Linked DNA regions of Homo sapiens: all the other regions are linked to region 1. Evidence: fine-mapped expression QTL. A gene starts in region 1. Each other region holds a variant in brackets. All regions are shown on one strand. Distances are from middle to middle.

Region 1 (5,098 bases):
CCGGAGAACACCAAGGCTGTGAGAAATGGGAGGCCTCCTGGCAGCTCCACTCCCCAGACCCGCCTCTGCCAGGGCTCCAGGCTCAGCAGGCGCCTGTGCGGGACAGGGCGACGGTTCAAGACCAAGTCCGGCTGTTAGACCAGACCCTCCAATCCAGGCGGCCTCCCTGCTGGGGTCCTGTGCGGTCAGGAGTCCCAGGGCATCCCAGGGTGGCTGTGCAAACCCTTGTTCCCAAAGATATGGGGCTTGTCCCCCAGCTAGCCTGCCCATGCGGTGGCCACAGCCTCGGGTGAGTTCCGGTTCCAAAGTACCGGCTCTCCCTTACGATCAAGTGTTCGAATGTGCTTGAAGCATTCCAGACACACCAAGGCCTGGACCTGACTTCATTGACGCCTACTTAGGAAAAATTGAGGCAGTCTGCCAAGCTTTCAGCAACTGCTTAAAAAGCTCAAAATGGCAAGTTTTTCCTCGTGAACGTCCTTGTCTTCAGAAGTCTTTTTTTAGACTATCTGGAAAAGCAGGCGATGCAAAGACAAAAGCCCCTCCCCGGGGGGCGGGGGGCAGCACCCTGACAGCAACAAGGATCTCAGAGCTTCAGCCAAGAGCATGGATTTCTCCCCAGGGCTCCCAACAGTACCCTCTGTCCGTGATTCAGGGTCTTACTCTGTCACCCAGGCTGGAGTGCAGTGGTGCAATCATACTTCACTACAGCCTCCAATTCCTGGCTCAAGGGAATCCTCCCACTTCAGCCTCCAGAGTAGCTAGGACCACAGGCACGCGCCACCACGCCCAGGCATGTAAAGATGGGATCTTGCCATGTTGCCCAGGCTGGTCTCAAACTCCTGGGCTCCAGCAACCCACCTGCCTCAGCCTCTCAAAGGGCTGGGATTACAGGCGTGAGCCACCGTGCCCGGCCTTTTCTTTTGTTGTTGTTGTTGTTGGCTGCCAACTTTGGACTCCGGTGCCTTCGCATTCCCGAGCTGTTTTTGCTTCTGGAAGACCAGGGGCATCAGGCATGACTGAAGGACCTGGTCTCCATAAGCTCTGAAACCTGCCGCCCATTAACTCAACCAAAAGTTACGAACCAGCATCATTCACACCACCCCAGCCCCAGGACCTGCTCCGGAGGCCAAGGGCCCAGAGGTCGCCAGACACAAGGCCAGGCACTGGGCAGTTTGGGTTATCTTGTTAGCAAAACTGGGTTCCATTCCCCTTTACTTAAAAAATACATAAAAATATACGTTGGGTTTCAAAAATAAGAAAAAGCATCTCCAGACAAAAAAGACGATCTTCATTTTTAAAACCCATGACGCACTCTCGGGAAGGTGTTCCTGTGCTCTGGGCCTGGGGACGCTGGTGCCACCAGATTCCAGGATGGCCAGGTGGACCCGGGGCCAGTGCTCCCAGCCTTCCTTCTGTGCTGTTCTGTGGGCCCCCAGCCTGCCCTGCCCACAGAGCACGGCAAGCAGGTGGACCCCAGACCCGTGACAGAGAGCCACCTGGACATGCCAGGCCACAGCACTGGGCCACCTTTCCAGTGTGAAACAGGGCTTTAAAAGCCAGCGCTGAGCTCGGCCACCTCTTGACCTTCTGAACGGCTGTGGTTTCCAAACACGGATGGATAACCGGGCCGGGCGCAGGGGTGGCCTACTCACCTGGGGGCGAACTCCTTCTGGCACATGGGGCAGCTGCGCAGGGCCGCGGCACCCTCCACAGACGGCTGCTGCTCCACCCTGGGGGCCCTGCAGGGATCAGGTGCCGGGCGCTGGGGCAGGGACCTGGCGGGGGATTCCAGGTGCCCTCCTGCCCCGTGAAGCAGCCGGTAGGAACGGCCCGGGCCCCACAGGTCCGGCGGAAAGGGTGTCCAGGAAAAGGTCTTGGGTCCGACAGTGAAGACTTCAGTGGGCTCCGGGCCGCACCTGGGCTCCTGCAACACAGAGTTGTTGGGCCTTGCCCAGCGATGGCTCCCGCCCTGGAAACCCCTTCATCGCTAAGATGGGCCCAGTGGGCACACCTGTCCTGGGAAGGCGGGCAGTGAAGGCACCTCGTGATCCAGGATCAGCTCCGGGCTCACCGTGCGCAGTAGCTCGGCCCAGAGCCGCTCCCGCTCATCACCCCCCAGGAGAAACCAGGGGCGGCCGCCAGAAGGCCTGGGGCAGACAGAGAGGGCAGACAGGGGGTACTCAGTAGCGGAAACGCTATGGTGGGGAGACCCGGGAGGGCCTGGGGCAGAGAGAGCGGGGAGATGGGGGGTACTAGAGGGAAATTCGATGGTGCGGGAGGTGGCCGGCAGGGTTGGGGGAAGGGCTGCTGGGGCAGACAGTGCGGAGATGAGGGGTACTGGGGGTGGGGGAGCGGGGTGGGTGGGTGGAAATATGGGGTCCTCAGCGGGATGAGGCGATGGTTGGGGAGATTGCGGAGGGCCTGGGGAAGGTAGAGGGTTAGATGGGGGGTGCTCAGGGGAGACGCGATGATGGGAGAGGCGCGGGAGGGCCTGGGGCGGCGCGGGGGAAGCTCGGCGTGGGGTGGGGGCTCAAGGCGGGCGCTGAATGGCGGCGCGGGGTGGGGCGACGGGCGTGGGGGCCGGGCCCGGGGGCAGGGAGCCCTCCCCAGGGGGAGAATAGAGCGGGAGGCCCGCGGGGGCGCCGGGAAGCACGTGGGAGCGGGAAAACCGGCCGCGCCCCCGCCCGGCTCCCGGCCTCACCCGCCCGCCGGGCGCGGCCTCCGGCGGCTCAACCCCAGCCGCGGCCTCCGCGCCGCCTCCATCCAAGCCCGCGCCGGGCGGAAGTGAGCGCAAGCCCCGCCCCCGCCCCTCCAGGCCCCGCCCCCGCCCCGGCCCCGCCTCCAGACCTCTGCAGCGAGGCCGCCCCCCTCCGAGACAGTCGGAACCCCAGGGGCCCTGATCCCAGCCTGTAGGGAAACTGAGGCCAGGGTTCCTTCGTCCTGCACCGCACAGGGGGGCCTGGCGTGAGGGTGGGGGGCCCAGGTGGGGGAGCCCCGCCCGTGTCCCCTTTCCCGTCCGGGCAGCCCCCGGGCCGGAGCCCCCTCCGTTACCCCGATGGCTGCCCGGCCCGCCCCGGCACTGCCTCCTCCCGGCTGCACCCAACAGCTCCCGCCCCCGTTTCCGGCTCTGCGGAGCCGCCTCTCCTCCCAGGACCATTCCAGGAGTAAATAAAGCTTGAAATCCGCCGTCGCCACCACCGTTTCTTTACAAAAGGCGGGGAACTCAAGCTCCTTAACCAAGAAACCAGAGGCGAAGTGACAAAGTCCAGGTGGCTCACTTGGGCCTCAGGGGCCTGGGCCAGGGCCCTGGGGGCAGCTGAGGGGCTTTCCTGCCTGGACCCCGGGCTCTGCGACCTCAAAGTCGGCCACGTGGTGGCAGCAGCCGCCCAGGCACCCTGGTGCCACACTTGGCTGTGCCCAGTGCCCCATGGGCCCAGGCCACTTGCCTCTCCCTTGGCCCTGCTGGGCCCTGGAGTGGCTGCCACCCTCACGGAAGGAGTGGGGTCTACAGAGATCAGGGTCAGGGGCCCTCGCCAGACGCCACTCAGGGCTCTGGGACTCCTTGGCAGTTTCTGCCCTGCCCAGCCCCAGCAGCTTTGGGGCTATGCTGGGCACCCCTCCTGCAGGGCTCCCTGGCTGTTCCTACCCCTCACCTGGCCCCTCCCAGCCCCCAGTCGTCTGTGCCCTCCCTCCAGAACTCAGCTGTGGAGCCCGGCCCTGAACCCAGGCCACCCGAGTGGCCCACCGTCCTTCAAGGGGCCCCAGCCTGGAGGCCATAGGTTGGTGTTCAGGGAAAGGGTCAGCAGCAGGGCCTGGACTGGGAGGTCCCCCTCTCCCTGCATGAGTGGTTTTCTTCCGCACACCTTCCTGCTCTAGATGCTGGAGGCCCCCAGCAGAACAAGATGGAGGCACCAACCCCCAGGCCCTTCGACTTGAGTGAGCAGATGGAGATGCAGCGCTGAGTGCTGCCCGGGCAGGGGGAGGGGGCCTGGGGGAGCTGCTGCAGGCCGTGTGGTCTCAGGGGGCCCTGTGGGAGGTAGCCTGTGGCTGGGCCTGCTCTCAGGCGAGAGAAGCCCAGCCGTGGGGTCTCTGCAGCCCCACGTCCACCACATGGCAGGTGCCAGCTGACCAAGCGCTCTCAGACAGCCAGTGTCCAGGGCTCCCCGACAGTCCTGGCTGCCCTGGCTTCAGCTCCGAGCTTCTGGGTCTTTCCTGGAAATGTCACCATGGTCTGCAGGAGGGCCTTGGGTACTTCCAGGAAGACTGGTCCCAGCCTCCCAAGACAGGAGAAAAGGCCAGGCCCAGCAGCCCATGCCTGCAATTCTAGGACTTGGGGAGGTCCAGGCAGGCAGATTGCTTGAGCCCAGGAGTTTGAGACCAGCCTGGGCAACATGGCAAGACCTTGTCTCTATAAATAAAAAATTAGCTGGGCATGGTGGCATGTGCCTGTGGTCCCACCTACTTGGGTGGCTAAGGTGGGAGGATCACCTGAGCCCAGGTAGGTGGGGGCTGCAGTGAGGCAAGATCGTGCCACTGCACTCCAGACCCCAACTCAAAAAAAAAAAAAAATAGGCCAGGTGTGGTGGCTCAAGCCTGCAATCCCAGCACTTTGGGAGGCCAAGTCGGGAGGATCACTTGAGGCCAGGAGTTTGAGACCAGCCTGGCCAACATGCAGAAACCCCATCTCTACTAAAAATACAAAAATTAGCCGGGCATGGTGGTGCACACCTTTAATCCCAACTACTTGGGTGGCTGAGGCACGAAAACCACCTGAGCCTAGGAGGCATAGGTTGTGGTGAGCCAAGATCGCACCACTGCACAACAGCTTGGGCATCACAGCAAGACTCTGTCTCGAAAAACAAAAAAAGACAGAGGAGAAAAGCCCTTGGTGACAAGTGTTTGCTCAGCTCTCTGTGCCGTGCTGGGGGTGGTGGGGGGTGTTCTTGCTCCTTCCTCTCCCTTCCCCACTCTGGCTCCCAACCCCAGGGTTCTGCTGTTGGACCCGGGGGTGGCTCCTGCCTCCTCCTCCTCTATGGCCCCCACATGGTCCAGTGCCCTCCTGCCATGGGACCGGCCGGCCTCTGGATGGGCTCCG
Region 2 (5,098 bases), 180 kb after region 1:
ACTAGACAAAGACATTACAAGAAAAGAAAATTTCATGCCAATATCCTTCACGAACAGGGATGCAGAAATTCCCAAAAAAACTTTAGCAAACTGAAGGACAAGATAATTCATTGCTCTATCAAAAAAAAAAAAAAAAAAGAAAAAGAAAAAAGGCCAGGCTTGGTGGCTTATGCCTGTGATCCCAGTATTTTGGGAGACTGAGGTGGGAGGATCGCTTGAGCCTGGGAGTTTGAGACCAGCCTGGGCAACATAGTGAGATTCTGTCTCTACAAAAAAAAAAATTACAAAAACAAACAAAAAGATAATTGGGGAAAGAATACTCTTTTTAACAAATGATCTTAAGACAAATAGATACCCACATTCAAAGGAATATACAGCAGTTGGACCCCTTCCTTACACCAAACAAAAAGATTAATACCGAACGGTTCACAGTCCTAAATGTAAGAGCTAAAAATATGTCATTTTTTTTTGAGATGGAGTCTTGCTCTGGGGTGCAGTGGCGTGATCTCGGCTCACTGCAACCTCTGCCTCCTGGGTTCAAGCAATTCTCCCTGCCTCAGCCTCTCAAGTAGCTGGGACTACAGGCACCCGCCACTATGCCCAGCTAGTTTTCGTATTTTTTAGTGGTGACAGGGTTTTGCCACGTTGGCCAGGCTGGTCTTGAACTCCTGACCTCAGGTGATCCACCTGCCTTGGCCTCTCAAAGTGCTGGGATTACAGGCGTGAGCCACCGTGCCTGGCCTAAAAATATAAAATTCTTAAAAGAAAACACAGGAGTAAATCTCCATGACTCCAGACTAAGCAAAGTCTTCATAGATATGACATCAAAAGCAACAAAAAGAAAAAGAGAGAATTGGGTTTCATCGAAACTTAAAACTTTTGTGTTTCAAAGGACACCAGCAAGAAACTGTCTGACTGCCCACAAAATGGAAAAATGTATTTGCAAATTAGATATCTGATAAGGGGCTTGTGTCTAGAATATGTCAAGAACTCTTACGACATCTTGATGCAGAGCAGGTGAGCTCTACAGCAGGGCTTAGCCTGTGAGGGTTCTTGGCTTTGGCCAGGGAAGGATTTAAGGGTGAATGGGAGGTATGGAAGCGGCAGGGCTACAGCTCCTGCAGAGCGGGGCTGCCCCCCAGGCAGAAAGCAGCAGCTCAGGGCAGTGTCGCAGTCATATTTATACCCACTTTTAACTGCGTGCAGATCAAGGGGTGGTTTATGTGGACATTTCTAGGGAAGCGGCAGTAACTTTTGGGTCATCAGGCCATTGCCATGGAAAGGGGTGGTAACTCCCAGGTGTTGCCATGGTGATGGTAAACTGGCATGATGCGTTGGTGGGCGTGTCTTATGGAAGGCTGCTTCCTCCCTGACCCTGTTTTATCTAGTCCTCAATTTGGTCTTGTGTCTGAGCCCCACTTCTGGAGTCAAGTTCTGCCTCTTATCTCCATTTCTCCAACTAAGATCTACAAATGGCCCATAGCACACAAAAAGATGCTCAACATCATTAGCCTTTAGGGAAATGTAAATCCAAACCACAAGAAGGCACCACTTCACACCCACAAAGATGGCTACATCCAAAAGACAGACAGGCCAGCACGGTGGCTCATGCTTGTAATCCCAGCACTTTGGGAGGCTGAGGCGGGTGGATCACAAGGTCAGAAGATGGAGACCATTCTGGCCAACATGGTGAAACCCTGTCTCTACTAAAAATACAAAAATTAGCTGGGCGTGGTGGTGGGTGCCTGTAGTGCCAGCTACTTGGGAGGCTGAGGCAGGAGAATCGCTTGAGCCCGGGAAGCAGAGGTTGCAGTGAGCTGAGATTGCACCACTGCACTCCAGCCTGGACAATAAAGCAAGACCCAGTCTCAAAAAAAAAAAAAGGCGGGGGGCAGTGGCTGATGCCTGTAATCCCAGCACTTTGGGAGGCCGAGGGTGGTGGATCAAGAAGTCAGGAGATTGAGATCATCCTGGCTAGCAGGGTGAAACCCTGTCTGTAC[T/TA]AAAAAAATACAAAAAAATTAGCCGGGCATGGTGGCAGGCGCCTGTAGTCTCAGCTACTCAGGAGGCTGAGGCAGGAGAATGGTGTGAACCCAGGAGGTGGAGCTTGCAGTGAGCCGAGATTGAGCCACTGCACTCTAGCCTGGATGACAGAGCAAAACTCAGTCTCAGAAAAAAAAAAAAAAAAAAAAGAAGACAGACAATAGCAAGTACTGAGGAGGGTGTAAAGCCATTGGAACCCTCTTTCATTGCTGGAGGTAATGTAAAAACCTTGCAGCTTTTCATGTTCAGACTGAAAAGGAAGAAGTAAAACTGTATTTATTTATAAACAATATGATCGTATATAGAGAAAATCTTAAGGAATCCTCTAAGAAACTAGTAGAACTAATAAATGAGTAAAGCAAGTCAAAGGAAATGAGGTCAATATGTAAAAATCAATTGTAGTCTACGGCAACCTCTGAAATGAAGTTAAGAAAATTCTACTCATGATGGCATAAAAAGAATAAACAAATTTATCAGCATTTAGAAATAATTAATAAAATAATTATAATTCAATATCTAATAAATAACATTATTATGTATTAATAGCTTTCACAAAGAAGTGCAAGATGTGTGCTGAAAGGAACAAGACGCTGGTGATAAAGTAAGAACTCTACCTAAATGGAGAGATGCTTCTGTGTTCATGAGATGGAGGCCTCAGTGTTGGTAAGATTTCATCTGGACATTCTCTCCAGAGGGGTTCAACGCACCTCCATCAACATTCCAGCAGCCTTCTTTTGTTGTTGTTGCAGAAGTTGGCAAACTGATCTTAAAATTTTATACAGAAATGTAAAGGTCCCAGCAGAGTCAAGATCATTTTGAAAAGGAAAAACAAAACTGGAGGACTCTCCAATTGGAAAACGTGCTAAAAGCAACAAGAATCCAGATAGCGTGGCCCTGGCATAGACTGAGGATAAATCAGGATAGACAGATCAGTGGAGCAGACGGGGGGTCCAGGCATCAACCCTGACTCTTAGGGCTGACTGATTTTCAACCAAGGTGCCAGGGCAACTCAACGGCAAAAGGACGGTGTTCTCAACAAATGATGCTGGGATGATTGAACATCCCCATGAAGAAAAGATGAATTTAGAACTTTATCTTTTCCATAAAAAATAACTCACACTGGATCCCAGGCCTAAATGTAAGAGCTAGAACTATAAGAGTTCTGGAGGGATACGAGAAAATCTTTGTGAAACTTGGGTTAGGCAAAGAATTCTTAAATACGGTACCAAAACTATGCTCCATAAAAGAAAAAATGGACAAACTGGACTTCAGCAAAATGAAAAACTTTTGCTGTTCCAAAGATAGCATTAGGCAAATGAAAAGATGAGCCGTAGGTGGACGGAAAGCATTTGCAAAGACATATCTGATAAAGGACTTATATCCGCAATAGGTAAAGAACTCTATAGCTAAAAATAAGAAGACAACCTTTTTTTCATTTTTTTTTCTTCTTTTTTTTTTTTTTTAAATGAGACAGGGTCTCCCTCTGTCACCCAGGCTAGAGTGTAGTGGTGCAGTCACGGGGCTCACTGTAGCCTCAACCTGCTGGGCTCAAGGGACTCTCCCAATTTCAGCCTTCCGAGTAGCTGGGACCACACGCATGCACTACCATGACCAGCTAATTAAAAACAATTTTGGTTTTTTTTTTTAGGGATGGGGTCTCACTATATTGCCCAGGCTGGTCTTGATCTCCTGGACTTGGCCGGGCACGGTGGCTCACGTCTGTAATCCCAGCACTTTGGGAGGCCAAGGCGGGTGGATCACGAGGTCAGGAGATCGAGACCATCCTGGCCAACACGGTGAAACCCCGTCTCTACTAAAAAAAAATACAAGAAATTAGCTGGGCGTGGTGGTGGGCGCCTGTAGTCCCAGCTACTCGGGAGGCTGAGGCAGAAGAATCGCTTGAACCTGGGAGGCGGAGCTTGCAGTGAGCCGAGATCGTGCCACCGCACTCCAGCCCGGGTGACACAGCGAGACTCTGTCTCCAAACAACAACAACAACCACAACAACAACAACACCAAGAAGAAAGATCTCCTGGGCTCTAGTGATCCTCGCACCTCAGCCTCCCGAAGTGCTGGGATTTTAGGTGTGAGCCACTGTGCCTGACTGATAGTCTAATTTTTAAAAAATGGGTACAATATTTGAATAGACATTTCTCCAAAGAAGATAAACAAACAGCCAATCAACACAGCGAGAGCCACTCATCGTCATCACTCGTTAGGGAAATGCGAATCAAAATCACGAGGAGCTATCACTTCACACCCACAGGGCAGCTATTACAAAAAGACACAATTCCAAGTGTTGGGAAGACGCAGAGAAATCTGAACCTTCATGCATTACTGGTGGGACTGTAAAATGCTGCAGCAATTTTGGAAAAACAGTTTAGCAGTTTCTTTAAAAGTTTAGGCCAGGCGCGGTGGCTCACGCCTGTAATCCCAGCACTTTGGGAGGCTGGGGCGGGCTGATCACCTGAGGTCGGGAGTTCGAGACCAGCCTGACCAACATGGCGAAACCCCATCTCTACTCAAAATACAAAATTAGTGGGGCATGATGGCACATGCCTGTAATCCCAGCTACTCAGGAGGCCAAGGCAGAATCACTTGAACGCGGGAGGCGGAGGTTGCGGAGAGCCGACATTGCACCACTGCACTCCAGCCTGGACAGCAAGAGTGAAACTCCATCTCAAAAAAAAAAAAAAAAAGTTCAAACATAAATCTACCATGTGATCCAGCAATTCCATTCATAGGTGCATACCCATGAGAAATGAAAACACATTCACACAAAAACTTGTATACACATGTCCACAGCAGCACTATTCATAACAGCCCAAGGTACAAACAACTGCGATGGCCAGCAGCGGATGAGTGGGGAAGCAGAAAGTAGCCCCTCACTAGAATGGAAGACTGTTCCTCCTAAAAAGGAAGGACACTCTGACACACGTGCACGCGTGCCCCCCCACACGTATACACATTCAGACCTGTGCACACCTGTGCAAGGCATACACACATATGCACACACATACAGGAGCACGCACATCACACAATATGTGCACACATGCTT
Region 3 (5,098 bases), 51 kb after region 1:
GGCCAGCCCTGTGGTATTTTGGAGTATCCGTTGGTATTGAGAGTCTGGAACTTACTTAGTGTCTGGGGCATGGGCCGTGTTTTGGTATCGCAAGAGATGCTTCAGGGCGCGTGTCAGCACAAACACATCACACGGGCTTCGTGACCATGTGCTGGCTGCACGAGATGTCAGTGTGCTCCGCGTACCACCTGCTTCATCCCCGCCCTGCCCTCTCGTGCTCCTCGGCAGGGGGCCGCCATCCTTATGCCCCGCCTGCCCTTTCTGCAGCTGTGGGTGCAGGCTGGCCGTTGTGCTCTGTTGCAGGAGCTCCTGTCAGGCTGCTGGTCTGCGCGTGTGCTCTCCGAGTGCCTGTCACTCTGGCTGACTCACTGTGTCAGTGTCACCGTGCAGCTTTGCTCGTCCTGTTCTTGTGCCTTGGGACGAGTGGGCAGAGTGCTTGCTGTTGGGTAGGCTGTGGTGCACCATGTGGGCCTGGGAGTGAAACAGCTTGGTCAGAGGGCATGTCGGTCACGCCAGGCTGTCTTCCAAAGCGTCCCAACACTCCCTGTCATCGGTCTTGTTGGCTGTAAACGAGTTCTCTGCTGCATGGGATGCTAGGGGTGTGGTGAGTTTCTTGTAGACGTGGCAGGTCAGAGGGGAGGCACACTGTCTGCCAGGCACCCTGTTATTTACTGATACACGCACACGCAATACACATCTCTATAGATTGCTTTTGTATGTTCACTCAGCTGGGATGATTCTGTGTGTGCTTAGATCTTTGTTCACGTTTCTGATCATTTCCTTAGTGGACTCTGAGATTCCCCTAAAAGGTGGGATTGTTTTACCCAAACTTTTCTTTCTTTCTTTCTTTCTTTTTTTGACACAGAGTCTCGCTCTGTCACCCAGGCTGGAGTGCAATGGCATGATCTCGGCTCATTGCAAGCTCCGCCTCCCGGGTTCATCCCATTCTCCTGCCTCAGTCTCCTGAGTAGCTGGGTCTACAGGTGCCCGCCACCACACCCGGATAATTTTTTGTATTTTTAGTAGAGATGGGGTTTCACCGTGTTAGCCAGGATGGTCTCATCTCCTGACCTCGTGATCCGCCTGCCTCGGCCTCCCAAAGTGCTGGGATTACAGGCGTGAGCCACTGCACCTGGCCCCTCCTGACAACTTTTAAGATTCTGTCATTTAGGCTGGGCATGGTGGCTCACACCTGTAATCCCAGCACTTTGGGAGGCCAAGGTGGGTGGATCACTTGAGGTCAGGTTTTCAAGACCAGCCTGGCCAACATGGTGACACCATGTTTCTACTAGAAAAATACAAAAATTACCTGGGCGTGGTGGTGTGCACCTGTAGTCCCAGCTACTTGGGAGGCTGAGGCTGGAGAATAGCTTGAACCTGGGAGGTGAAGGTTGCAGTGAGCTGAGATGGCGCCATTGTACTACAGCCTGGGTGACAGAGCGAGACTCTGTCTCAAAAAACGAAAAGCAAAAACAAGATTCTGTCATTTAGAGTGTCTTTGTTAATTTGAAAGGTGAAAAATCTCATCATTTAGTTTGTATTTCTTTGCTTTTTGGTGGGTTGATTGTTTTGTTATTTCAGTATTTTTTTCTGTAACTTGTGCATATTACATTTTCTTATTGTGGCAAAATAAACATAATGTTGACCATTACATGTAGCATTCAGCAGTGTTGAACACATAGGCTGACAGTGAAGGAATGGAAAAAGACATCCCATGCCATTGGTGACCAAAAGAAAACAGGAGTGGCTCCATTTGTATCAAACAAAATATACTTTTCTTCAGAAACTATTACTAGAAACAGAAAAGTAGTTACAGAACAATAAAAGGGTCGAATCAACTGGAAGATCTAACAATAATATATACGCACCTAACCTCAGAACAGCTAAAACTGTAAAGCAAATTCACGCTGCTGTTCACCCACCTTCCCAGGCTCAGCCTTTGTCCCCATGAGACACTCACTCCCCATTCTGCCTCCCCCAGCCCCCAACACCCACCCGCCGCTTTCTGTTTCTGTGACTTTGGTGACTCTAGGGGCCTCCTGTGAGTGGAATCGCACAGGATCTGTCCTTTTGTGACAGCTTATTTCACTCAGCACCATGTCCTCAAGGCGCAGCCATGCGTAGCCTGTGTCACAGTCTCCTTCCTTCTCAAGACTGAACCGCAGGCTGCTGTATGGATGTATTTTGTTTACCCATTTCTGTCAGTGGACACACGGGTGACTTCCACAGTTTAGCTGTCGTGAATGATGCTGCTGTGAGCACGGGTGCACAGTGACCTCTGGAGACCCTGCCTTCAGTTCTGGGTGTAGACCCAGAAGTGGGATTGCTGGATCATTGATCATTCTATTTTTATTCATTTATTTTTGAGACAGCATCTTGCTCTGTTGCCCAGGCTGGAGTGCAGTGGCACGATCTCGGCTCACTGCAGCCTCCACCTCCTCCTGGGCTCAAGCGATTCTCCTGTCTCAGCCTCCCAAGTAGCTGGGACTAAAGGCATGTGCCACCATGCCCAGCTGATTTTTGTATTTTTAGTGGAGATGGGGTTTCACCATGTTGGCCAGGCTAATCTTGAATTCTTGACCTTATGTGACCTGCCCGCCTTGGCCTCCTAAAGTGCTGGGATTACAAGCGTCAGCCACTGCACCTGGCCCTATTTTTCCTTCTTTTTTTTTTTTTTTTTTTTTTTTTTGAGGCAGGGTCTCACTCTGTTGCCCAGGCCAGAGTGCGGTGGCACAGTCTCGGCTCACTGCAACCTCCGCCTCCCAGGTTCAAGTGA[T/G]TCTCCTGCCTCAGCCTCCTGAGTAGCTGGGGCTATAGGTGTGTGCCACCACACCTGGCTAATTTTTGTTTTTTTAGTAGAGACGGGTTTCGCCACGTTGGCCAGGCTGGTCTCTGACTCCTGGCCTCAAGCCGTCATCCCGCCTCGGCCTCCCAAAGTGCTGGGATTACAGGCGTGAGCCACCGCATTCAGCCCGTTTTTCTTTTTAAAGAACCGACTGTTTTTCATAGTGGCTGCAGCATTTTCCACTCCCAGCAACAGCGTTCGAGCAGCACTGTCTTTGCATCCTCTCCAGCACTTGTTCTGTTTTTTGACAGCGGCCATCCTAATGGGTGTGAGGTGGCATCTCATTGTGGTTTTGGTTCTCATTTCCCTGATGATTAGTATGTTGGGCATTTTTTCGTGTGCTTATTGGCCACTCCTATATCCTCTTTGAGGAATGTCTGAGTCCCTCTTTGAGTCGAGTTGTGTGTGGGGGCCTTTGCTCAGTTGTACGTCTTTATCTACTCTGGTTAGTGATCCTGTTCTACTTGTAAATTTCTGTCTCCTGTTTGTCTACTGCGTGCACCGTGGTCGGATCCTGCCTCTGTTGCTGGAGGCTGCCTCTGTCCTCTGCTGTGGTGGTCAGGAAGCTGGAGCGTCTCGGCGCCAGATTCATGTTTGTAAGAGGAGACGCTCTGTGAGCCTCGGTGTGCAGCGCTGTCTGCAAGTCAGACTCCCCACCCCTCCTTTGTGCGAGCTGGGCGGGGGCTCTGCCGGGACTGGTGGTGTTCATGGAGAGGGCTTCTGTGTGATGAAGAGATGACAGTGACCTGCTGGGGCCGAAGGCTGTGAGTGCCATTGGGGGAGGGAGTCTCAGAGAGTGCGGCAGTCGGGCCTGATGGGGCTGCTCTTCTGTGAAGGGGCACCTACCGTGTGCCTGGCCTGTAGCAGCAGCAAAGAGGAACCTGATGGGGGGGGCCTCAGGAACCTCCACCTCGCCCACTGTGGCCAGGCTGCTTCTGCTTTCTGGGAGGCCTGTGCAAGAGCCATGGGCACAGGCCGGGCACGGTGGCTCACGCCTGTAATCCCAGCACTTTGGGAGGCTGAGGCCAGCGGATCACAAGGTCAGGAGTTCAAGACCAGCCTGGCCAATATGGTGAAATCTCGTCTCTACTAAAAATACAAAAGTTAGCCAGGTGTGGTGGCATGCACCTGGTCCCAGCTACTTGGGAGGCTGAGGCAGGAGAATCACTTGAACCTGGGAGTCGGAGTTTGCAGTGAGCCGAGATTGTGCCACTGCACTTCAGCCTGGGCAACAGAGCAAGACTCCATCTTAAAAAAACAAAAAACAAAAAAGGGAGCCGTGGGCATGTGTGTGCACAGGTGTGCATGGGTGTGTGCAGCTGGAGAGGGAAGGGCCTGGGTCAGGGGCGCCCTCAGCCTGGAGCCAGGGAAGGGCAGCGAGAGGACCCCAGACTCCCAAATGACCAAGGGCCTGTTTGCAGCGTGCTTCTCCCTCCTTTCTTCTGGCTCTGAAGTTATATCCTGCCAGATCCTGGAGAAAGTTCTTTTAGCAAAATGATGGCTTCGCTGAAGATGATACTTGCCACCTCACAGAAGCCTGTCACGTTCCTCCCTTTGGAACCCATTGCCAAATGTGGGTGGTGTGGTGGACCCGGGGCAAGGGGCCATTCTCTGGCAGCCCCTAGAAATGCCTCCCTGGGGTTGGGGTGCAGCCACCAGGCAAGAAGTATGTACCCCCTTGCCCTGGCCACTTGGGGTTTCTGGGACAATCTGCTGGCTTGGCCTTGACTTTTTCCTGAACCTAGGAGCCCAGGGCCTGCTCCTGGCATCAGGACTTGCTCTTCCTCTTTCCTGGGCCCCACAGGTGCCCTTGGGGAGCACACAGCTGCCCCAGCCCGAGTCCAGTCTGGCTCTCGGGAAGGGGCCTTACTGCTGGCTGCACACCTTGGCCTCCTTCCCCTGGATGCGCCATTGCCAACGCAGCTGGGACAGCCCTTGGACGCAGCGTGCCCGCCCCTTTTACCAGGGCATGTGGGCTGGGACCAGTTTCAGCCCCATGTTGACTTGTTTGGCTCTGCTGGTGGTGACGGGGGGGCGCGGTGGCGGGGGGCCTTGGTCGCGTCGTGTCTGCTCTTGTGCACCGGTGCCTCACGGAGAGGCTGTGGTGAGTGCGCGGAAGGACCCTGGTGCTTTTGGGGACTTTCTGGAGCAGCCCACATTCCTTCCCCAGAGCCCTAGGGGCCTGGCCAGCTGCCTTTCCAGGCCCTGAGGCCACCAGGTTCTTGGGGGGAGCTCCTAGGTTCTGCTTTGGCCTGG
Region 4 (5,098 bases), 680 kb before region 1:
GCCACGGCTGAGACACGCAGAGGGTCTGCAGTTCCCACCTGCCTCTCGGAAGCTGCCCTGGGTCGGCCGTCAGTGAGGCTCCGCCTTGGGCTTTCTATTATTAGAAAGTCATTGAGCAACAGCAGTGCTGAGGACGCAGGCAGGGCTGTGGGCACTGCAGGGGCTGCCCCCGGTGTCCACACACGTGCTGGGCTCTGCCGAGGTGCGGGAAGCCTGTGTTTCACGCTCAGGCCATCCTGGAGCCCCTGGTTTGGTCCCTCCCCACCTCGGGGCCCTGGCGTGCATTTGGGGTGGGGGGTTCCCATGGCGGCCTCCCTCAGCTCCCTCTCTCCCCACTAGGCCACGGCGTATGCCTCCGAGGACGGGGTCCTGACCGAGGCCATGATGGACACCCGCGTGCAAGATGCTGTCCAGCAGCACCAGCAGATGATGCGCTGGCTGAAGAGGGGGAGGCCTGGGCCCGAGGACGAGCAACCCTCATCCTGAGTCCATGGGGAGACCACACCTCACGGAGCCTGGCCGCGGACCCCTCCCACCCCTGCCTTTGCGGCCCCGCACATTTAGGAAATACTCCCCGTAATAAAGTCCCACGGGGGCCGCACCGCTGTGTCTATTGGCTGGGGCGGGGTTTGGGGCCCCCTAACGTCCCCCTGGGGTCAAAGGTGACAGAAAAGGCAGAAGCTGGGGCTTTCTGGAGGATTTAACCACAGAGGGGTGGGCTGCACAGGAGGTGCCTGCCACGGCAGGGCCGGGTGCCCGTGCCCCATCCTGAGGCCGTGCATACGCGGGTGCCCTTCGCCTCCCTCCCCTCCGCCAGAGCTGCCTGTGGCCAGACACACGGTGGAGGGAAGTGCACGCGAAACAGACACAGCGGCTTCAAATAGATGCCGCCCCTGCCCGCGCTTTGCAGCTAGTCCCTGCAAACCTTGATGATGGGGCTGGGCGCGGTGGCTCACGCCTGGAATCTCAGTGAGGCCAAGGAGAGTGGATCACCTGAGGTCAGGAGTTCCAGACCAGCCTGGCCAACATGGTGAAACCCCATCTCTCCTAAAAAAAAAAAAAAAAAAATTAGCCGGCCGTGGTGGCAAGTGCCTGAAATCCCAGGTACTCAGGAGGCTGAGGCAGGAGAATCACTTGAGCCTGGGAAGTGGAGGTTGCACTGAGCTGAGACCATGGAATTGCACTGCAGCATGGGCAACAAGAGTCAAACTCCCTCTAAAAAAAAAAAAAAAAAAAAAAAGGGCCAGGTGGCACATGCCGGTGGTCCCAGCTTCTTGGCTTGGAGGCTGAGGTAGGAGGATCGCCTGAGCATGGGAGGCAGAGGTTGCAGTGAGCTGAGATCGCACCATTGCACTCCAGCCTGGGTGACAGAGTGAGACCCTCTCAATAAATAAATAACCAAAACCTTGATTACAGCCATGGGGTGGGGGTGGGGGGACGTCTGGCTATTGCTGGGGAAGTCATTTGGTTTTTCTCCTCCTCTCCTATTTTTTTGGTACAGACGGGGTCTCTCTTTGTTGCCCAGGCTGGTCTCCAACTCCTGGGCTCAAGCAATCCTCCTGCCTCGGCCTCCCAAACTGGCGGGGTTACAGGCGTGAGCCACCGCGCCTGCCCTGTTTTCTTTTTCTTTTTTTTTTCTTTTCTTTTTTTTTTGGCGATGGAGTCGTGCTCGCCCAGGGTGGAGTGCAGTGGCCTGATCTCGGCTCACTTCAACCTCCACCTCCAGGGTTCAAGCAGTTTTCCCGCCTAAGCCTCCGGAGTAGCTGGGATTACAGGCGCACGCCACCATGCCCAGGTTAATTTTTGTATTTTTGACAGGGGTTTCACCATGTTGGCCCGGCTGGTCTCAAACTCCTGTTTTCAGGTGATCTGCCCACCTCGGCCTCCCAAAGTGCTGGGATTACGGGTGTGAGCCACCGCGCCTGGCCGGCATTTTCTGG[C/CT]TTTTTTTTTTTTTTTTGACAGAGTCTGACTCAGTCGCCCAGACTGGAGTGCAGTGACGAGATCTCGGCAGCTCACTGTGTTATATGTAAATTTTCTGTGCCGCCAAAGAAGTAGAACTCGAATATAAATTTTTCTCAGCTAGATAATTTACTTCTATAGAAGGGGACATCTCATAGATGGAGCAATGGCGAGCGCTTGGACAAGGGAGGGGAAGGGGTTCTTATTCCTGACGCGGGTAGCCCCTACTGCTGTGTGGTTCCCCTATTGGCTAGGGTTAGAATGCACAGTCTAAACTAGTGCCCATTGGCTATTTTAAAGGGAGCAGGAGTATGGGCCAGAGTGGCGGGGTGAGTGGTTTGGCGGGAAAAATGGTTATGGGACAGGTAACTAAAGGTGACTCAGGTCAAAGCAGGAGACCGGGATTAGTTAGGACGGAGCAGGTGACCAGGGCAACAGATGTCAACTACTGACTAGAACTGGTGGAAAAGGTTGTTTACTGAAACTGCGAGGAAGGTAGACTTTAAAATGCAGGACAAAGACTGAACATACTGATATACTGATTCTTTGAAGGGAAGTTTAGAACTCATTGTATCTAACATTATTCAGGCTTAAAACAGTTTCCAATCCAGTGGGAAAAGTCACTCCATATATTCCGTGAAGTCAACCAGTTCCATCAAGGAGAAAGTCAGGGCCGCTGGGAGCGCGTGGACCGTGGGCTCCGGGGCGGCGCCTGCCCGGGCACCCCGGCCCCGTCCACGCCCCGCAAGAGGAGCTCGCTGGCCCCGCCACGCGGGAAGGGGTCGCCCCGGGGTCTTGGGCGGGAGGGCCGTGCGGGCTGCGGAGACACCGAGGAGGGGAGGCGCCTCTCCTGAGCTCTTGGCGCAGCGACCCCAGGGCGCCGACTCATCGCGGAAGGGCTCGGCTTGCCCGGGCGCCGGTGCCGCCTCGGGTGAGGTTCCCGCGAGACTCTTCTCTGCGTCCTGGACTCACCGCAGGGCGCCCCGCCGCACGGATCGAGAACCTTGGGGCTCCCTGGAAACTTGCCACCCGCTGCCGCCAAGGCCGGAACTCCTCGGAGCCCCTAGCAACGGAGCCCCTAGCAACGGAGCCCACGCGGATGCGGCGCGGGGCTGACGCTGCCTTGGGTTCGCCTACGTCCCTCGGGAATTTTGTCCCGGCGTGGCTCCCGTAGCCAGATGCTTCGCCGCTCCCGCCCCGCTGGCTCCCAAAGCCTGTTCGGCAGTCGCGGCGCCGTCGCTATGGCGTCACTGTCCTCGGGGCCAATCCAAGGGCTGCGCGCGTGTCCCTTACGCGCTTCTATCGCCGGGAGGAAGGGGTGTGTGTGGCGCCTGCGCAGTGGCGGTGACCACCGGCTCGCGGCGCGTGGAGGCTGCTCCCAGCCGCGCGCGAGTCAGACTCGGGTGGGGGTCCCGGCGGCGGTAGCGGCGGCGGCGGTGCGAGCATGTCGTGGCTCTTCGGCATTAACAAGGGCCCCAAGGGTGAAGGCGCGGGGCCGCCGCCGCCTTTGCCGCCCGCGCAGCCCGGGGCCGAGGGCGGCGGGGACCGCGGGTTGGGAGACCGGCCGGCGCCCAAGGACAAATGGAGCAACTTCGACCCCACCGGCCTGGAGCGCGCCGCCAAGGCGGCGCGCGAGCTGGAGCACTCGCGTGAGTGCGGCGGGGCGGGGCGGCGCGGGCGGGCGGGCGGGACGGGCCGGGGAAGCGGGAGCCCTGGCCCTTGCCGCTCCTCGCCGCTGTCGGCAGCCACTTCCCGGGCGAGACTGCGCCCCCGGAGCACCCCCGGCCGGAGCCGTGTCGCGTGCCGGGAGGATCGGACTCTTTCCGTCACCCGTTTGCACCTCTGCAGCTGTCAGGAGCGGGTCAGGTGCGGAAAGCGGTGCGGAGGTGGCGCTCATAGGTTACAGGGGTCAGGGTCTGGGGCTGGCCGTGGTCTTCAGTTACCGCCGAGCGTGCGGGATCCTTCTGCGCTTGCCGCCTCCACGTGGCACAGGCCAAGGCGTGGCCAGATGGGTAGATGGGTTTGTTGGGTGGTTGCTAGCAGTTTCCACGTAACAAGGGAAGCGTATTTGAGAGTTACTTGATTCTAACGAGACTAGCAGATTTGCACTTCTTGTTGGAAGACGTTAGCATTTGCACGGCGAGGTCTGTGAAGCCACAGGCCAGGCCGTGCTGCTCAGCTTGAGTAAACCCCTGACCCAAGGCCCTCAGGGTGTGAGCACTCACCATGTTGTTCAGGCTGGTCTTGAATTCTGGCCTCAGGTGATTCGCCCACCTCGGCCTCCCAAAGCGCTGGGATGACAGGCGTGAGCCGCTGCTCATGGCCTTCCTCGGTAATTTTAACCATCAGGTTAGGATGGGAATCAAGGGCTGGACTTCAGGGCACCTCGGAGGACAGCGGATGTTGGTGACTGACTTTCTTGCTGCAGGCTTATTTGGAGGGTTCCTTTGTGTCCTAGTTCCTGGGGGTTTTCACCCGCTAACTTCACTTAGAGATTGAAACTTCTCCCACTTCCAGAAGCTGAATCGTAGTGATCAGCCTGCGGCCCCCTGCAGTGGTACAGGCCTGGTTGAGCAGCCTCAGGCCGCCTCCCCATAGTGCAGACCTGTGCCTCTGAGTTGCTCCAGTCCTGGCGGCCCCGGAGCTCCTGACCCGCAGTCCGCTCTGCCGGCGTTGCCAGTGCCTTGGTCTGCCCTCTCTGTGGTGGAGCGGGGCCCGGGGCAGGGTCTCCAGGTGCACCGTGGGGAGCCCTCCATCAGGCTTTTGTTTCCTGTGGATTGTGTTCCAGGTGTGGGCTCTTTCATTCTGATCCCTTCCCTCCTTCCTGGCCTCACTGCTGGCAGGTGAGAGAGGTTTCTCCAGAGTTGACTGCCCCCTTTCCCCGGGTGCCCCCTGCCCTGCCCCTCTGCCTGGTAGCCCCTCTGCAAGCCCGGCCCCTCCCGACGCTCCTGGCTTCCTCCGTGCCCCTTTCCTGGCAGCGGGTCGCCGAGATTCGGCCGGAGCCCATTGCTTTGTCCTTGCTGCTCTCCAGGCAAACGGGCGGCTCCTCCTCACCGACTGCCTCCTCTGTCCCTTGAGGCTATAGCCCCATGCCGCCTGGTTCCCAGAGTGCCCTGACCCCTCCTCCGGCCTGTCCTTG
Region 5 (5,098 bases), 90 kb before region 1:
GCCCACCACCACGTCCCGCTAATTTTTTGTATTTTTAGTAGAGATGGGGTTTCACTGTGTTAGCCGGGATGGTCTCGATCTCCTGACCTCGTGATCCGCCCGCCTTGGCCTCCCAAAGTGCTAGGATTACAGGTGTGAGCCACCGTGCCCGGCCCTCGTTTTTGTTTGTTTTACTTTGTTATGAGTAATGATAGATTTCTAGAAACTTCGTGTATTTTTTTCTCCACTTTATTTCAACTTTGTAGAAAGAGATCTAAAAATGCAAGTCTCCTCCCCCAACCCCCAACTCTCCTGCGTCACGGATTGGTTCAGAACCAGGAGACACAGGGCCCAGAAACCTAGGGGCTGGAGGGGCCTTACCCTTTGGACTCTTGACTGTTTTTATATTCTGGCCCCTCCCCCCGTCTGTCTCTCTCTCAAGAGACAGGGTCTTGCTCTGTCGCCCAGGCTGGAGTACAGTGGTACAATCACGGCTCACTGCAGCTGGGCTCAAGCAAGCCTCCCACCTCAGCCTCCCAACTAGCTGGGACTTCAGGCGCGCACCACCACGCTTGGCTAATTTTTTATTTTTAGTAGAGTTGGGGGTCTTGATTTGTTACCCAGGCTGGTCTGGAATGCCCCAAGTGATTCTCCCACTTCGCCCGCCCAAAGTACTGGGAGCCACCACGCCGGGCTAGACTGTGGGGTTTTTGGGGGGCAAGAATTGTACTCATATCTCTGTTTCCACAGTGGGTCTTACACTGTGGACAAACAGCAGCTGATGTTCTCACCCGGCCTTGTTCTAAGAGGACTCCAAAAAGCAAGTCGTAGCCCCAGTGACTGGGAAAGGCTTCCCCGGGAGAGCGGCCGACACAGCTGCCGCAGTAGTAAGGGTTTATTTATCAAGACTGATTTATTTATCAGTTCAAGACACAGTTACACAGAGTGTGGGGGATGGTTCATCAGCAGCTGGCACGTCCAGTGGCGCGTGTGCCTCGGGAAGGCCTGGGAGGGGGACACAGGTGCTCCGCAGGGAAAGCTGCCCCCACCCCAGCCCAAAGAAGCCCTCCAAGCTCCATCAGTCATGCAGTCATGTACTTTTCCTCATCAGCACAAACCCCGCTTCCTTGAAGAGAAGCGTGAGGCTGGGCACGGTGGCGCGTGTCTGTAGGCCTAGCTACGAGGGAGGATCGCTTGAGCCCAGGAGGTCGAGGCTGCAGGGCTATGATTGCAACACTGCACTCTGGCCTGGGCAACAGAGAAAGAGAGAGAGGACTGTCTAGAAGGGAAAACAGGGATAGCAAAGTAGATGGGAAGGAAGGGCCTCTGGGGCGGCGGGTGAGTGCTGGCCGCTCCCCTCTCCACAAGCTGCTGTGGTCTCTGGGGGCTGCACCTGAGGCGGCAGTGGGAGGAGAGGGGTGAAGGGCAACGCGCCCCCGTTTAAACACCTCCTGGCCTGGACGCCAGCTGTTCACTTGTAATCACTGGTCACCCTGAAGAGATGGGATGGACCCCTGCCCAACATTTGGCTCAGGTGTCCACACAGATGACAGCACCGCACGCAGACGGGAGGGAGCTTCTCACCACATAATGAGGTTTTCTGGGGAGAGCAGGGGAGGGGGGTCTTCCAGGATGGTCCAGAAAGGTCTTGAGCGCGCCTGTAAGGAGACTGTCTCGGTTTCCGTGGCGGCTCTGGGGCAAGGCGGGGTGAGCAGGGGCTGAGGCTTGCAGGGTTTGAACTTTCCCCAGGGCCCTCATCACCTCACTGGGATGTGGGCGGGAGGGGAGCGGGTCGTCTCAAACACCTCCAGCAGTCGAACATCAAAAAGGGGGTCCAACTCTTGGTTGCGATTTCTTTGGCTGAAGCCTGGACTCCTAGCCCCACGGGCTGAGGGAAGGTTACGGCTGGTGGTTGGATAGACGCCAGTGCTTGCCCCAGAGCTGCAGGGGAAGAAGGTGGCCTGAACCTCAGGGCCTCTGTGTCCAGTTCAGGGGCCAGTACAGCAGCATCGGTCTGCGAGGGGTATGTGTTCTAGAGGAGTGAGGGGACAGACAGGGGAGCCCCAGAGGCATCCAGTGGCGCGAATGGTGGGAAGGGCCCTAAGAGGGGAGGCTGGGAGGGGACAATCCCAGGTGGCAGGGGATGGCCGCGATGAGGCCCTGGGGTGGAGCCCAGGCAGGGAGCATCCAGGGGAAGCCAGTGTGGGTGGGGACTGGGAGGAGAGAGGGAGGCTGGGCCTGCCCTGGCGAGGGGTGGTCAGAACATCGCTCGGTGCCAGACAGGCAGGACGCAGCGGGCTGGCCTGCGGGGCTCACTGCTGCCCCCCGGGGCCGAGCACGAAAGGGAGAGTTGGAGGGCGCTTCCTCGCCGGGTGTTGCGGTGTGAGCGGGGACTGGTGAGTGTGTGCTGTCTTCAGAGAGAGAAGAGCAGTTTTCAGGGTGAGTAGCCTTTATTCTTCACACCTCATTACACAGCACCCAGGCCTTTTATTCAGGAGGGCGCGGCCGGCCTCACCCCGACAGCCACCCTGGCTTGTTGACCTTGATCTGTGACAGCTCCCCTGTGAGTTCAGACTTCTCAAGGACGCTTGCATAGCCAACATTGTTGAGAACGAGTAACCCCTTATCACAGCACACGTCTGTCGTGCCATGAAGCAATTTCCCATCCCTGTGGCTTTGAAGGCATAAGTCACTGCGTCACGGCCATGCTGTTCCTTCCAAACCTGCTCGTCAGGAGACAGCTCTTGCGCTGTG[T/C]ACCGGCACTGCCGCCCAGCAGGTGACCCCAGCAGCTGGTTTGTCCCTGCCTGGGGGTGAGGGCCTGCAGGGTGTTTGTAGACGCAACTCTTGAAAGGCCCTGAGGTTGGGGCTTGGTCATGAGGGTGCCCGGGGCCCATCCGGGAGTAGAAGTAAGTGCACTAGGCATTTGGCCAAGGGTCACGTTAGGCCTTATTTATTTATTTTTTGAGACAGTCTCACTCTTTTGCCCAGGCTGGAGTGCAGTGGCGTGATCTCAGCTCACTGCAACCTTCGCCTCCCGGGTTCAAGCGATTCTCTTGCCTCGGCCTCCCGAGTAGCTGGGATTACAGGCACCTGCCACCATGCGCAGCTAATTTTTGTATTTTTAGTAGAGACGGGGTTTCACCATGTTGGCCAGGCCGGTCTCAAACTCCTGACCTCAAGTGGTCCACCCACCTCAGCCTCCCAAAGTGCTGGGATTACAGGCGTGAGCTGCCACTCCTGGCCAGGTCTTTTTTCAAATAAATGTCTAAGCAAAATGAATTTGGGGTGAAGTAGTCACAGAGCTGTCAGGAGGAGCAGGGTGGCTGCGTGCCCCTGGGAGCTGCTGTGGGTGATGACCAGGTGATGCCGGGAAGGTCACTTTCAGACACATAGTTGTCATCGTCGGATGAGAATTATTCTCAGGTCTCAGGTGGGAGGGGCTGCCCACCAGGCCTGGATGAGGCCCCACCCCCCCACACACACATGCTGGGACCACGAGTGGCACCCCCTGAGGATGAGGGGGCTCCTGCGTTTGTGCCCTGTGTGGGAGGTGCCACCTCATTTGCATGTGGCCCTTCCACGTCTCCTGGCCATGCCAGACAGGTCCTCAGGATTGTTGGGAGATGAGGGCCTCGCCCAGGACTTCGATGGGGTGTCCCCCCAGCCCCCTGTGGCTGATGGAGCAGCCTGACATTTTGTGGACACAAAGCCCCCTAGAGCCAGGGAAGGACAGGGCCGGACCCAGAGCCAGGGAAGGGAGGTGGAGCTCCAGCCAAGGCATCCAAACATCAAAAGGCAGAACTGAGCGGCTTGGTACTTGAAAAGTTTTTATTAGGAAAAATGCCAAACTGACAGAAGTAGAGAGAATTACATAGTGAGGCCTCGTGCACACCCTGCCTGGCTCCTGGCAACCTGCACTCCAGCCGATACCTGTGACTCTCAGCAAGCCCCTCTAGTGGGCGAGGACCTCCACACGTGTCGCCAGGCCAGGCGACTCTCAGCAAGCCCCTCCAGTGGGCGAGGACCTCCACACGTGTCACCAGGCCAGGTAACTCTCAGCAAGCCCCTCTGGTGGGCGAGGACCTCCACACGTGTCACCAGGCCAGGTAACTCTCAGCAAGCCCCTCCAGTGGGCGAGGACCTCCACACGTGTCACCAGGCCAGGTAACTCTCAGCAAGCCCCTCTGGTGGGCGAGGACCTCCACGTGTGTCACCAGGCCAGGTAACTCTCAGCAAGCCCCTCCGGTGGGCGAGGACCTCCATGCGTGTCACCAGGCCAGGTAACTCTCAGCAAGCCCCTCTGGTGGGCGAGGACCTCCACACGTGTCACCAGGCCAGGTGACTCTTCAGCAGGCCCCTCTGGTGGGCGAGGACCTCCACACGTGTCACCAGGCCAGGCGACTCTTCAGCAAGCCCCTCCACACGTGTCACCAGGCCAGGTGACTCTCAGCAAGCCCCTCCGGTGGGCGAGGACCTCTGCACGTGTCTCCAGAGGCCAAAGCAGAAGAAAACGTTAGCACAGGAGTCACTTGACTTCACCAAACGCAGCCAGGATTGCGGTTTCTCCGGCTCGGCTGTCTCAGTTGTTTAAGAGAGTTCATGCTTTTGAGATCAAAGTTAAAAGAAGGCCTGTGCCTCGCAGGGCCTGCTCTGCCTCCCCCGTGTTTCCTCGGGGTTCTGCGTCTGTGACCGGGGTGCGGAGCACTGGTGTGCAGTTCTCTGTCTCGTGATTCGTGTAACAGTGAGTGCTGCCTGCACCAACAGCCGGCTGCCTTCCGTGGCTGTGTGGGCTCCTGTGCGGAGGCCGCCCCTCTCCCTGGCCAAGCAACACTGAGGCGGGATTGCGTCCTCCCTCTCCTGAGGCAGGTCCTGCTCCAGACCTGCTTTTTTCCCGCACGTCACGTGTCCTGAGACCCCTCAGTGGATGCGTCCTCTCTCCTTCCACGGCCGCACACACTCCCGTGCCCGTTGGGCTGGGCTGACTGATGCATGTGGGGGCTCCGTCCCATCTTTTTCAACTACAGATGGAGCTGCGGTGGGAAAACGTGTGCAGATACCTCCCATTTTACTTTTGTGCTGGGGCTTTTTTGGGATCAGTTCCTAGAAGTAGGGGACTGGG

Alleles and levels. Alleles are on the strand shown, and positions count from the first base shown. SD is a standard deviation of normalised expression in the study named. Not every link is listed here.
For the expression in activated naive CD4 T cells of the gene that starts at base 2,789 in region 1, allele C in region 4 goes with a higher level than allele CT (large effect, 1.4 SD a copy in Schmiedel 2018).

What was found. PIP is the estimated chance that this variant, and not a neighbour inherited with it, causes the effect.
Region 2: its variant is fine-mapped to the expression of FAAP20 in monocytes after LPS (Fairfax 2014, PIP 0.95).
Region 3: its variant is fine-mapped to the expression of FAAP20 in tibial artery (GTEx, PIP above 0.99).
Region 4: its variant is fine-mapped to the expression of FAAP20 in activated naive CD4 T cells (Schmiedel 2018, PIP 0.95).
Region 5: its variant is fine-mapped to the expression of FAAP20 in whole blood (INTERVAL, PIP above 0.99).

Annotation. Positions count from the first base shown.
Region 1 is chr1:2,191,984-2,197,081 of GRCh38, forward strand. FAAP20 (FA core complex associated protein 20) reads right to left here and starts at 2,789. Exons shown (of 4, transcript NM_182533.4): 1 at 2,705-2,789; 2 at 2,015-2,150; 3 at 1,656-1,927. The coding sequence starts at 2,766. It overlaps LOC112268219 (a long non-coding RNA gene), which reads left to right. Exons shown (of 1, transcript NR_168005.1): 1 at 1-475. RefSeq lists silencers at 2,544-2,633, 2,644-3,123 and an enhancer at 3,757-4,423.
Region 2 is chr1:2,367,187-2,372,284 of GRCh38, forward strand. The region is part of intron 8 of MORN1 (MORN repeat containing 1); the gene reads right to left. Among named protein-coding and RNA genes, the nearest start is that of MORN1, 22 kb to the right of the region's middle. The variant T/TA (reference allele first, on the strand shown) is at 2,001.
Region 3 is chr1:2,243,126-2,248,223 of GRCh38, forward strand. All of the region lies in intron 1 of SKI (SKI proto-oncogene), which reads left to right. Among named protein-coding and RNA genes, the nearest start is that of SKI, 17 kb to the left of the region's middle. RefSeq lists enhancers at 273-793, 4,263-5,098. The variant T/G (reference allele first, on the strand shown) is at 2,777.
Region 4 is chr1:1,508,866-1,513,963 of GRCh38, forward strand. It overlaps ATAD3A (ATPase family AAA domain containing 3A), which reads left to right and starts at 3,297. Exons shown (of 16, transcript NM_001170535.3): 1 at 3,297-3,608. The coding sequence starts at 3,404. It also overlaps a transcript of ATAD3B not described here. RefSeq lists enhancers at 1-147, 148-789, 3,045-3,104 and silencers at 2,605-2,804, 3,255-3,414. The variant C/CT (reference allele first, on the strand shown) is at 1,941.
Region 5 is chr1:2,102,478-2,107,575 of GRCh38, forward strand. All of the region lies in intron 4 of PRKCZ (protein kinase C zeta), which reads left to right. Among named protein-coding and RNA genes, the nearest start is that of PRKCZ, 55 kb to the left of the region's middle. The variant T/C (reference allele first, on the strand shown) is at 2,734.